3 separate regions of the Homo sapiens genome follow, and regions 1 and 3 are each linked to region 2. Evidence: fine-mapped expression QTL. A gene starts in region 2. Each other region holds a variant in brackets. All regions are shown on one strand. Distances are between the middles of the regions. Region 1 overlaps ZNF529-AS1 (ZNF529 antisense RNA 1). Region 2 holds the start of ZNF260 (zinc finger protein 260). Region 3 has its middle 17 kb from the start of ZNF566-AS1.

Region 1 (4,246 bases), 53 kb after region 2:
AATTAGCCAGGCATGGTCGTGGGTGCCTGTAATCCCAGCTACTCGGGAGGCTGAGGCAGAGAATTGCTTGAACCCGGTAGGTGGAGGTTGTAGTGAGCCAAGATTGCGCCGTTGCACTCCAGCCTGGGAGACAGAGTGAGACTCCGTCTAAAAAAAAAAAAAATACTACACGTGTGAATTAGAAATTCTAAGCTGAGAAAGCTACTTAAAATTGGTCAAGAAAAAGATACACATTAAGTATAAGAAAGTTGGCATGGCTATAGTAGTATCAGATAATAGGCCTCAAAACAGTGTATATGGCAGGAGATAGGTAACAGTCATAAAAGAGCAGGTCATTAGGAATTTGCATATACATTTGTCACTACAGGGATACATTCTGAGAAATGTGTTATTAGGTGATTGCATCATGCAAGCATCATAGAGCACACTAACACAAACAGCAATGGGGTAGCCTACTACATACCTAAGTTATATGGTATAGCCTATTGCTCCTAGGCTACAAACCTGTATAGCATATTATATAGCATATAGCATACCTGTATTGAATGCTGTAGGCATTTATAACACAGTGGTGTTTGTGTATCTAAACATAGCAAAGGTACAGTAAAAATACTGTATAAAATATTAAAAAATGGCACACCGGTATAAGATACTTGCCATGAATGGAGCTTGTGGGACTGAATTTCTGGGTGCATCAGTGAGTGAGTTGTGAGAGAATGCTAAGGACTAGGACATTACTGTATACTGCTGTAGACTTTACAAGCAGTACACTTAGGCTTCACTAAATTTATTTTTTTAAGTTTTCTTCAATAATAAATTAACCTTAGCTTCCTGTAATATTTTTACATTATAAACTTACTATTTTTTATCTTTCTGAATTGTAGTGACTCTTCACTTAAAACGCAAACACATTATATAGCAACACAAAAATATTTCTGTCCTTATTCTATAGGCTTTTTTCTATTTAAAAATTTTTTTGTTTTAAAAATGTTTGTTACTTTTTAAACTTTCTTGTTAAAAACAAACACACTTTAGCCTGGGCCTACACAGGGTCTAGAGTATCAATATGTCTGTCTTTTACCGCCATATCTTGTCCAACTGGAATGTCGTCTTCAGGATTAAAAATATGCATGGAGCTGTCATCGCCTATGAAAACAATGCCTTCTTCTGGATACCTCCTGAAGGACTTGCCTGAGGCTGTTTTACAGTTACTTTTTTTTTTTAATAAGTAGAAGGAGTACAGTCTAAAATAATAATACAAATAGTACAATAAATTACATAAACTAGTAATGTAATCACTTATTATTATCACCTATTACGTACTATACATAATTGCATGTGCTATACTTTTATACAACTGGAAGCACAGTAGGTTTATTTACAGCAGCGTCACCACAAACACCTGAGTGATATGTTGCATGACAACGTCCACAAGTGATAGGAATTTTTCAGCTCCATTGTAATCTTATGGGACCACCATTGTATATGTGTCCATCATTGAGTAAAATGTTATTACATGACACATGACTGTGTTCATCAGGAATATGTATGCTAGTATGAACCTATAATGAGAGTGTTAAATTTTATGAAGCAAAAACTAACAGAACAAAAGAAATAGATCCACAAGCATAATTGGAAATCCACAATTATATCTCAGTAATTGATAGCACTTGTAGGCAAGAAATTCAGTAGTATATGTAATCAGCTCTTCATATATGCAGATTCAACCAATAGCAATGCACAAATATTCAGAAAAAACACAATGACAG[T/TA]AAAAAAATACAAATTTTAAAATACAGTATAAAATTATTTACATAGCATTTACATTGTATTAAGTATTATAAAAAATCTAGAGATGGTTTAAAATATACAGAAGGTTGTGCATAGGTTATATGCAACTACTACACCATTTTATATAACAAACTTGGGCATCTGTAGGTTTTGGTATCCACAAGGTGTCCTGGAACCAGTCCCCTGTGGATAGCAAGGGACAACTGTATAGAAGATATGAACCACACCAGTCAACATGACCTAATTGTTGTTTACAGAACACCATACCCACAATTGAAAAATTACATTCTTTTCATGTACCTGAACAGTCCCCATGATAGACTATTGGCTGGACCATAAGTCACAATAAACTTCAAAAGATTGCCACATTACAGGGAATGTGCATTAGAAACCAATAATAAGAAACCTATACAGTCCTTCAATACATGGAAATTAAATAACACACTTCTAGATCTACAGATCATTGAATAAATAAGGGGAAAATGTTTTGAAATATGAAAAAGTGACAACAGCATATCAAAATTGGAAGGATACAGCTAAAGCAGAGTTGAGAGGAATGTTAAGTACTTAAATAAAAAAAGGAGAAATTCATAGCAGCATTATTCACAATAACCAAGAAATACGTACAACCCAGATGTTCATCAGTGGATGAATGGATAAACAAAATGTGGTAATATGATTTGGATATTTGTTCCCTCAAAATCTCACACGGACATGTGACCCCCAGTGTTGGAGGTGGCGCCTAGTGGGAGGTGTTGGATTATGGGGTGGATCTCATGAATGGCTTGGTGTCCTCCACATGGATATGAGTTCATCCTATAGCTAGTTGTTTAAAAGAGCCTGGCACCTCCTCCCTCTCCCTTTTGTTCCCTCTTGCCATGTGATATGCTAGCTCTCCCTTTGCCTTCTGCCATAATTGTAAGCTTCCTGAGGCCTCACCAGAAGCAGATGCTGGCACTATGCTTCTTGTACAGCCTATAGAACCATAAGCTAAATAAACCATTTTTCTTTATAAATTACCCAGCCTCAGGTATTCCTTTATAGCAACACAAAACAGACTAATACATGTGGCATATACATACAATGTAATATTATTCAGCCTTGGAAGGAAATTTTGACATATGCTACAATGTGGCTGAACCTTGAGGATATTCTAATAAGCCAATCACAAAAAGATAACTACTTATGATTCCACTCATATGAAGTATCTAGAGTAGTCCACCTCATAAAATCAGAAAGTATTACTGGTCTCCCACTTTTAGGCTATTAACGCTTGTAGTGAGAGTTTGTAGGTTTCTTGTCGTGGTTGCCAGGGGCTGGGGGCAGGGGGAAAAGGGTAGTTATTATTTCATGGATATAGTTTCACATTTACAGGATGAAAAAGTTGTGGATGTTGGTTGTACAAAAATGGGAATATACTTAATGCTGCTGAGCTGTATACTCAAATAGTTAAGATGGTAAATTTTATGTTACATGTATACTTTGCCACCATTTTTAAAAATGAGGAAAGGCTTAAACAAGAATAATAAACATGCTATATGCTAAACCAAAAGTCAAAAAAAAGAAGTAAAGATGGGCATAAATCGGCTGGGCGCGGTGGCTCACGCCTGTAATCCCAGCACTGTGGGAGGCTGAGACGGGCAGATCACGAGGTCAGGAGATCGAGACCATCCTGACTAACATGGTGAAACCCCATCTCTACTAAAAATGCAAAAAATTAGCCAGGAGTTGTGGCAGGCGCCGCCTGTAGTCCCAGCTACTCGGGAGGCTGAGGCAGGAGAATGGCCTAAATCCGGGAGGAGGAGCTTGCAGTGAGCCGAGATCGCGCCACTGCACTCCAGGCTGGGTGACAGAGCGAGACTCCATCTTAAAAAAAAAAAAAAAAAAAAGATGAGCATAAATCAATTAAGTAGAAATAGAAAGCAGACCATTAAGAAAATGAACAAAACAACAAGTTTATGTGAAGGTATTTTAAAAATGGATAAATCCCTAGTAAGCATAATTAATAAAATAGAAAACACAAATTGCCCATGTCAGGAATAAAAATGAAGATGCCACTACGGATCCTATAGACAGTAAAATGATAAGGCAATATTATGAACAATTTTATGCCAATAAATTTGACATTTTAGATGAAATTCATCCATTCCTTTAAAAGCACAGCTTCTCAAAACTCTTGACTCAAAATGAAATAGAAAAACAGAAAGTCTGTATCTAATTGTTTGTTTGTTTGTTTGTTTGGAGACAGGGTCTTGCTTTGTCAGACTGGAGGCTAGTGGCATGATCATGACTCACTACAGCCTCAACCTACCAGTATCAAGTGATTCTTCTGTCTCAGCCTCCCAAGTAGCTGGGAGTACAGGTGGGCACCACTATGGCCAGCTAATTAAAAAAAAAATTTAGAGACAGGGTCTCACTTTGTTGTGCAGGCTGGTCTTGAACTCCTGGGCTCAAGAAA
Region 2 (4,246 bases):
AAAAAAAAAAGCTCTAAACATTTCAAAAATGAGAAACAGAAGGGACCTTATTTTCAGAATTTAGGTTACACAGAGAAACTATGAGAGACTAAGATGCCAGAGTTATCCACAATCACAACCTGTATAGGTTCCTTCGAGCAGGTGTCACTTGTGACCTTGCTCCTGAGTGAAGTCACATCTTTGCATATAATTTTTCCCCATAACACTTTTCTCATAAGTCTGAAGTAACCAACCTTGAGTGATATGGAAAAAAATACAGGAAATTATTCTGATGGTATTTATAGGTCAGAGCTCTAAAAAATTTAGAGGACTAATATTTTACTTAGATTAACTAGGAGAAGTTAAATATAGTAAGTGTCCTATAATAATAATCTTCCCTTGATATCACAGGAGATTGGTTCCAGGATCACTGTGGATACCAAAATCTGCAGATGCTCAAGTCCCTTATACTTCAAATATAAAGCCAGGCATGGTGGCTCACGCCTGTAATCCCAGCACTTTGGGAGGCTGAGGCAGGCTGACCACCTGAGGTCAGGAGTTCGAGACCAGGCTGGCCAAGATGGTGAAACCCTGTCTCTACTAAAAATAAAAAAATTAGCTGGGCATGGTGGCACACACCTGTACCTCAGCTACTTGGGAGGCTGAGGCAGGAGAATCGCTTGAACCCAGGAGGCAGAGGTGGCAGTGAGCCGAGATTGCACCACTGCACTCCAGTCTGGGTGACAGAGTGAGACTCCATCTCAAAAAAATAAAAATAAAGTGAATGGAAGTATATTTACATATAACCTATGCACATCCTCCCATATACTTTAAAATTATCTCCAGATTACTTATCATACGTAATACAACGTAAATGTCTGGTAAATAGTTGTTATACTGTATTGTTTAGGGAATCATGACAAGAAAAAAAAATCTGTACACGTACAGATACAACCATCGCAAGCTTAACAACAGTTATGATTCATGTTTGTTGAATCCGTGGAAGCAGAGCCTACAGACACAGAGGGCTGACTGTTCATTCACTGATTCAGCAAACATATACATTTATGATTATGTGTGCTGAGAAACCTTGGTTTACAATTTGTAATGGGATATAACAAATCAAAGGATCAAACTTACTTAGAAGCCTTCTCTAAGATGTAAGTGCCTTAGAACCTGGCTAGACAGTGCTATAAATTGCTGAAACAGGTACAGAGGGGAAATAGATGGAGGCAGACTGCAGGAAGAAGGAGCCCTTTAGACATAAAGAGCTTGAAGTTCCCTGTAACTTCCAGGTGGACTGCACATTGGGCAATTAGATAATATGGATTAGGAGCTCAGGACAAGCCTCCAGCAGAAACAGACATTTATTAGTCATCTGTATTAGATGAAGCCATGGATGGCAGTGTAATGTTGTTGCTGATAGGAGTACTTAGATGATCAAGGCCAGAAACTTAGAAACACCAATAGTTAGGGGAAAAGCAGAAACTAAGTCCTGTCTTCTTTGTATCTTTTACTTTTTCTGTATATTTCAAAACTATTAACCCTGTTACTTTTTTATTTTATTGAAAAATATGTTAAGAATAAGTGTGACAAGATACTTGAATATGTTGATATGTTAAGAATAAGTGTGACAAGATACTTGAAGATAGGATACTTCTATCTTTGTATACACAAGAAAAGAATTTCCCCTATATTTACAAAAGGCTGGGGAAACCCTGATTAAATTAGGAGTGAGATTGCTGCCCTCACTGACGAACTAGGGAGTTTCTTGACCTCTGCGCTAAAGGCAGGACAAGTAGCTTCCAAATTCTGTGCCGTCTGCGCTATTGGAAACTACCTCTTAAAGATATTCCTTAGTTCAGGGTTTCTCCAAGCAACTGCACCAAAGTTTCTCCAAAGTATTAAGAAAAGTCAATGCCTACTGGGTGTACAGGCACCCAGTAACAAGTTTTTCCGAAATCTTGCCTCTTTAAAAAAATAATGGAAAGGTAATGCTGATTTTGTTTTCTACTCCACAATAGGTCTGCTTTTATATAAAAAATCACCTTTAAAATTACTTATCCGCTCAATTCCTTAGCCTTTTCCGTTTCCTATTTTCCAGAAAACGCATCTTTATTATTTTAGAAATGAGAAAAGTGAGGCTTAGAGGTTACTACCTCACAAAGCCATCCGTCCATCCTCACAAACTTGGAACCAGTTTCTCACTAACTCTGCACCCTCAACACCCCCTCACACTCTCGGTCACCCACCCGCGAACCCACCCGAACTGTACCCCTGCCCCCAGCCACACAAGCTCGGATCACCGCACATCATAGAAGGCGATTCCTCCCCTCCATACTCCCAGCCCCGTCGCAGGCACTGCAAATCCTCCCCTCCAGCGTCCCTGGCCCGTTTCAGTGTCCAGAAACCCAAGTCCCACAGGGCCGAAACCCAACTCACCGGCAGACAAAGACGACCATGGCAAGTCGGAGATTCCGCGCCTGCGCACTCCTTCCGCGGGCAGCGCTCCCAGAGGTCTCCTGGGCTGGGCCAGGCCCCGACTCAGAACCGGACGGAATCGAGAGATCTTGGCCCGTCCTCCGTGCCACTCTTTTGAGGGTAGACTACATTTCCCAGAAGGTTCAGCGGTTTGAGTCAGCTTTTCGCGCGAACTTTTCCTCCGCCAGAGCTTGTGGGACTGTCTCCCTGGCCGGGGCAGGGGTGTAAGGCCTTAGTCTTAGTTTACTCTATCCCTGGGATTGGGTAGTGGTGTAACATCAGCTTAAACACGCTGTGCTGACTTTATGTAACAGCCACGGTGCGATACTAAGCCAGGAACCCCAGGAGACTCTCAGACACGGTTCGGGAATGAGGGTAATCCCTTTGGCTGGGCTCAAGCCGGGCGCCATCTTGCTCATCGCGGGCGTGGCGCTGAACTACATTTCCCAGAAGGCGCCGCGCCCTCGGCCCCTCCCCTCGCGACTCCCGCGGCTCGGGGGAGAGCTGCACGCGACCCAGGTGCTGGCCTCTGAGCGGGTCGGCTCGGAGACTACAGGATCAGGAGGAGGTTGGAGGTGAAGCGTCTGGAATCCGGTGCGGAGGTTGAGACTGAGTATTAAGTCTGTTCAGGCGGAACGCGCCGAGAAGGGCGGTTGTGAAATTGTGTTTTTGTGAATGTATGTCCTAGCACAGTGTGTGTGTGATTGTGATTGTGTGTGACACCTTGTGTACGGATGTGGGGAGGACTCTGCGGGTGTCCCGTGAGTCCCTGTGTTAGGACTGTTATTGTGTGACTGTGTAACGCTGTGTGAGGGTGTGGGTTAGCTGTGACTGTGTGCCCGCGGTGGGTGTGTGATTGTAACTCTGTGACCATATGTTCGTTTGTGTGCAGATATAGGGAGCTTTGTACTTATGTAGTTGTGACTCTGTGTCCTTGTGTGGGAGTATGGAGGGTGGGTGCTTGTGACTTTGTGTACAGTGGTGGGTGTGTGACTGTGAAGCATTGGGTGTGCGTGGAGTTGAGACTGTGTTTGTGTGTCTTTGACCAAATGTCACACATAGTCATATGTGAGAGCAGAAGACAGCTCGGCCCCGTGATAGTAAAGGGGATTTTTCTATGACACTGAGTTTTGAGTTGGAAGCCCCAGTTTCCTCTGATAGCCCTCCCATGGCGGGGGAGGGGAACGCAGAGTAAGCTCTGGCCTTGTCATTTGGGCCCTAGGGGAGGTGTATTGTCTCCCTTCTCATTTCTGTCCTCCAAGAGAGGTTCCCCAGAGGAGAGGAAATAACGGTTGTGATATCTAAAAGCCATGTTTAAGGTGCCTTGAAGTTTTCTCTTTGTTCCTGAAATGCTTTATTTTTCCAGGACCTGATTTTTTTTTTTTTTGAGATGGAGTCTCGCACTGTCGCCCGGGCTGGTGTGCAGTGGCGCGATCTCGGCTCACTGCAACCTCCGCCTCCCAGGTTCAAGCGATTCTCCTTCCTCAGCCTACCGAGTAGCTAGGATTACAGGTGCCGGCCACCACGCCCGGGTAATTTTTTTGTTGTTGTATTTTTAGTAGAGACGGGGCTTCACTATGTTGGCCTGGCTTGTCTTGAACTCCTAACCTTGTGAACCGTCCACCTCGGCCTCCCAAAGTGCTGGGATTACAGGCATGAGCCACTGCGCCCGGCTGATTTTTTTTTTCTTAGCAAATGCCTAAAAGGACTTATCAAGTAACCTGGAATCTTCTGTTACTCTTTGGAAAAATCTTCCTAATTTTGTCTTATTAATATAGCAAATGGT
Region 3 (4,246 bases), 21 kb before region 2:
GCCTGGCCCTTTTTTTCTTTTTTGAGACGGAGTCTCCCACTGTCGCCCAGGCTGGAGTGCAGTGGTGCAATTTTGGCTCATTGCAACCTCCGACTCCTGGGTTCAAGCGATTCTTCTGCCTCAGCCTCCCAAGTAGCTGGGATTACAGGTGCCCACCAATGCACCCGGCTAATTTTTTTTTTTTTTTTGTATTTGTAGTAGAGACAGGGTTTCAATATGTTGGCCAGGCTGGTCTCGCACTCCTGACCTCGTGATCAGCTCACCTCAGCCTCCCAAACTGTTGGGAATACAGGCGTGAGCCACCGCACCCGGCCCCCATCTTAGACATTTTAAAGTGTACTGTTCAGTGGTATTAAATACATTCATAATGTTGTGCAACCATCACCACCACCCATCTTTATAATTCTTTTCATCCTGTCATAATGAAAATCTATACCCATTAAACAATTAACTCCCCATTCTTCTTCTCTGCTAAAAACCATAATTCTACTGTCCCTATGATTTTGACTACTTTAAGTACCTTGGATAAGTGGAATCATATAGTATGGTCTTTTTGTGACTGGAATATTTCACTTAGCATTATGTGCTCAAAGTTCATCCACATTGTAGCCTATTACAGAATGTCCTTCATTTTCGAGGCCTAATACTATTCCACTGTATGTATATACCACATTTTGCTTACCCATTCATCTATCTATAGGCACTGGGGTTGCCTCCATGTTTTCGGTATTATGAATAACGCTGCTATAAACATGAGTGTTTGAGTACTTTCTTTCAATTCTTTTAAGTATATACTCAGAAATGGAATTGTTTAATCATATGGTAGTTGTAGGTTTAATGTTTTTCTCTTTTCTTTTGGAGACAGAGTCTCTCTCTGTTGCCCAGACAGGAGTGCAGTGGTGAGACCACAGCTCACTGCAGCCTCAATCTCTAGGGTTCAAGCAATCCTCCCACCTCAACCTCCTGAGCAGCCTTCTGAGGTGGCAAGGGCTGAAGTTGCTGTGGACTGATGTGAATACACTGCTGGAAACTTGGGATAACTTGGATCTGTGCCACTGCTAACATTATCATGACATTATCAAGAATTCAGGGAGCGGTGGCTGACGCCTGTAATCCCAGCACTTTGGAAGGCTGAGGCGGGTGGATCACTTGAGGTCAGGAGTTCAAGACCAGCCTGGCCAACATGGTGAAACCCTGTCTCTACCAAAAATACAAAAATTAGCTGGGTGTGGTGGCAGGTGCCTGTAATCCCAGCTACTTAGGAGGCTGAGGCAGGAGAATCACTTGAACCCGGGAGGTGGAGGTTGCAGTGAGCTGAGATCTCACCACTGCACTCTAGCCTGGGCAACAGTGCAAGACTCAAAAAGTCTGGCCAGGCGCGGTGCCTCATGCCTGTAATCCCAGTACTTTGGGAGGCCGAGGCAGGTGGATCACCTGAAGTTGAGAGTTCGAGACCAGCCTGACCAACATGGAGAAGCACTGTCTCTACTAAAAATACAAAACTATCCGAGTGTGGTGGTGTATGCCTGTAATCCCAGCTACTCGGGAGGATGAGGCAGTAGAATCATGCCACTGCACTCCAGCCTGGGCAACAAGAGCAAAACTCTGTCTCAAAAAAAAAAAAAGTTTGACTTAGGGGCATAAAGTACAGGTGCACACCACCACAGCCAGCGAATTTTTATATTTTTTGTAGAGGTTGCCCAGGCTGGTCTGGAACTCCTGGGCTCAAGAGATCCCCTTGTAAGTGGCTGGGCGCGG[C/T]GGCTCTCGCCTGTAATCCCAGCACTTTGGGAGGCCGAGGTGGGCAGATCACGAGGTCAGGAGATTGAGACCATCCTGGCTAACACGGTGAAACCCTGTCTCCACTAAAAATACAAAAAAATTAGCTGGGCGTGGTGGCGGGCGCCTGTAGTCCCAGCTACTCAGGAGGCTGAGGCAGGAGAATGGCGTGAACCCGGGAGGCGGAGCTTGCAGTGAGCCGAGATCGCGCCACTGCCCTCCAGCCTGGGCAACACAGTAAGACTCCATCTCAAAAAAATAAAATAAAAAAGAGATCCCCTCCTCTCAGCGTCCCAAAGTGCTATATGTTTAATTTTTGGAGGAACTACTCTATTTTTTTCCACAGTGGCTGCACCATTTTACACCCTCATCAACAGGGCATAAGAGTTCCCATTTCTTTTTTTTTTTTTTTTTTTTTTTTTGGAGGTGGAGTCTTGCTCTGTCATCCAGACTGGACTGCAGTGGCTAATTTTTTTGTATTTTGTAGAGACCATGTTGTCCAGGCAGGTCTCGAACTCCTGAGCTCAGGCAGTCTGCCTGTCTTGGCCTTCCAAAGTGTTAGGATTACAGGCATGAGCCACGGCGCCAGGCCAGGTTCCCATTTCTTTTGATCCTTGTAAACACTTGTTATTTTGTGTATTTTGTTTAATAGCTATCCTAATGGGTGAGTTGGTAATCACATTTTAGTTTTGATTTGCAAAGCACTGGCGCATGAAAAAATCTTGGGCCGGGTGCAGTGGCTCACGCCTGTAATCCCAACACTTTGGGAGGCCGAGGCAGGCGGATCACCTGAGGTCAGGAGTTCAAGACTGGCCTGGCCAACATGGGGAATCCTCATCTCTACTAAAAATACAAAAATTAGCCGGGCACGATGGTGTGCACCTGTAATCCCAGCTACTCGGGAGGCTGAGGCAGAGAACTGCTTGAACCCGGGAAGCGGAGGTTGCAGTGAGCCTAGATTGTGCTGCTGCACTCCAACCTGGGCGACAGAGCCAGACTGTGTCTCAAAACAAAAAACAAACAAACAAAAAACTTCTTCGGATAAATGGCTATTTAAGTCATTTACCCTTTTGATCTGGTTGTTTGCTTTCATTTTGAGTATTAGGAATTTTCTATATATTCTGGATATTGATCACACATCAGATACATGAATAACTTCAAATAGTGACTTTGTCTAATATCTCAGTTTTCAGAATTTCAGTATAATTGTTAAAAATAAATCAATTAGGGCCAGGCGTCGTGGCTCACGCCTGTAATCCCAGCACTTTGGGAGGCCGAGGTGGGCGGATCACGAGGTCAGGAGATTGAGACCATCCTGGCTAACACGGTGAAACCCCGTCTCCACTAAAAATACAAAAAAGTTAGCCGGGCATGGTGGCGGGCACCTGTAGTCCCAGCTACTCGGGAGGCTGAGGCAGGAGAATGGCATGAACCCGGGAGGCAGAACTTGCAGTGAGCCAAGATTGCGCCACTGTACTCCAGCCTGGGCAACAGAGCGAGACTCCGTCTCAAAAAAAAAAAAAAAATCAATTAGGTAAATGTAAATGGGATAGACATAAAAAGACTTTTCATGTCATTTGACATCGTACCATTGTGTTACTTAATTACTGGATACTTACTAAATGTCTTGGTTGGTACCAAATAAGATTAAAAAACCAAAATATGAATTGTTGAACACAAATGTTTGTTCTTGGCATTTTAAATCTTATAAAAACTCTAAATAGGCCAGGTGTGGTGGCTCACGCTTGTAATCCCAGCACTTTGGGAGGCCAAGGTGGGTGGATCACGAGGTCAGGAGTTCAAGACCAGCCTTGCTAACATGGTGAAACCCTGTCTCTACTAAAAATACAAAAATTAGCTGGGTGTGGTGGCGGGCACCTGTAATCCCAGCTACTCGGGAGGCTGAGGCAGAGAATTGCTTGAACCTGGGAGGTGGAGGTTGAAGTGAGCTGAGATGGCGCCACTGCATTCCAGCCTGGTGGACAGGACAGAGTGAGACTCTGTCTCAAAAAAAAAAAAAAAAAAAAAGGAAAAGAACCAATAGGACAGAGAGATGTAAACAAAGTTATTAATATGAAGATACATTTTTGGTAAGGCAAGTTAAAAGCAAAAGAGAATAACTTTGTATGAGAAAGAATTTTATGTGATAAATATTGGTCCTAAAGTGATTTTTTTTTTTAAAAGAAAGCATAGGACAAAGCGGAAAGTCAAAGTATGTTGTCAAAGGTCTGAATAAGTTGTGATAAAGTTAGTGGTGACAGAGATCTGAATTACCCCGTTAACAGTGGTGTATTCATACAAGACCACAGCAACTTCAGCCTGTGCCTTCTCAGAAGAAAGAATTCAACTGAGGGGAAGCAGAAAAAGAGACCAAGGCAAGTTTCAGAGCACGAGTGGAAGTTTATTTTAAAAAGCTTTAGAACAGTAAAGAAAGGAAAATTCACTTGTTAGAGAGCCAAGCAGATGCCTG

The links. PIP is the estimated chance that this variant, and not a neighbour inherited with it, causes the effect.
Region 1: its variant is the best candidate, but not a certain one, in a credible set for the expression of ZNF260 in whole blood (INTERVAL, PIP 0.57).
Region 3: its variant is the best candidate, but not a certain one, in a credible set for the expression of ZNF260 in lung (TOPMed, PIP 0.85).

The regions. Positions count from the first base shown.
Region 1 is chr19:36,579,051-36,583,296 of GRCh38, forward strand. All of the region lies in intron 3 of ZNF529-AS1 (ZNF529 antisense RNA 1), which reads left to right. It also overlaps a transcript of ZNF529 not described here. Among named protein-coding and RNA genes, the nearest start is that of ZNF529-AS1, 7.8 kb to the left of the region's middle. The variant T/TA (reference allele first, on the strand shown) is at 1,770.
Region 2 is chr19:36,525,798-36,530,043 of GRCh38, forward strand. It overlaps ZNF260 (zinc finger protein 260), which reads right to left and starts at 2,474. Exons shown (of 3, transcript NM_001166037.2): 1 at 2,422-2,474. RefSeq lists enhancers at 1,771-2,481, 2,222-2,851, 2,482-3,190, 3,002-3,201.
Region 3 is chr19:36,504,487-36,508,732 of GRCh38, forward strand. No RefSeq gene overlaps it. Among named protein-coding and RNA genes, the nearest start is that of ZNF566-AS1, 17 kb to the left of the region's middle. The variant C/T (reference allele first, on the strand shown) is at 1,759.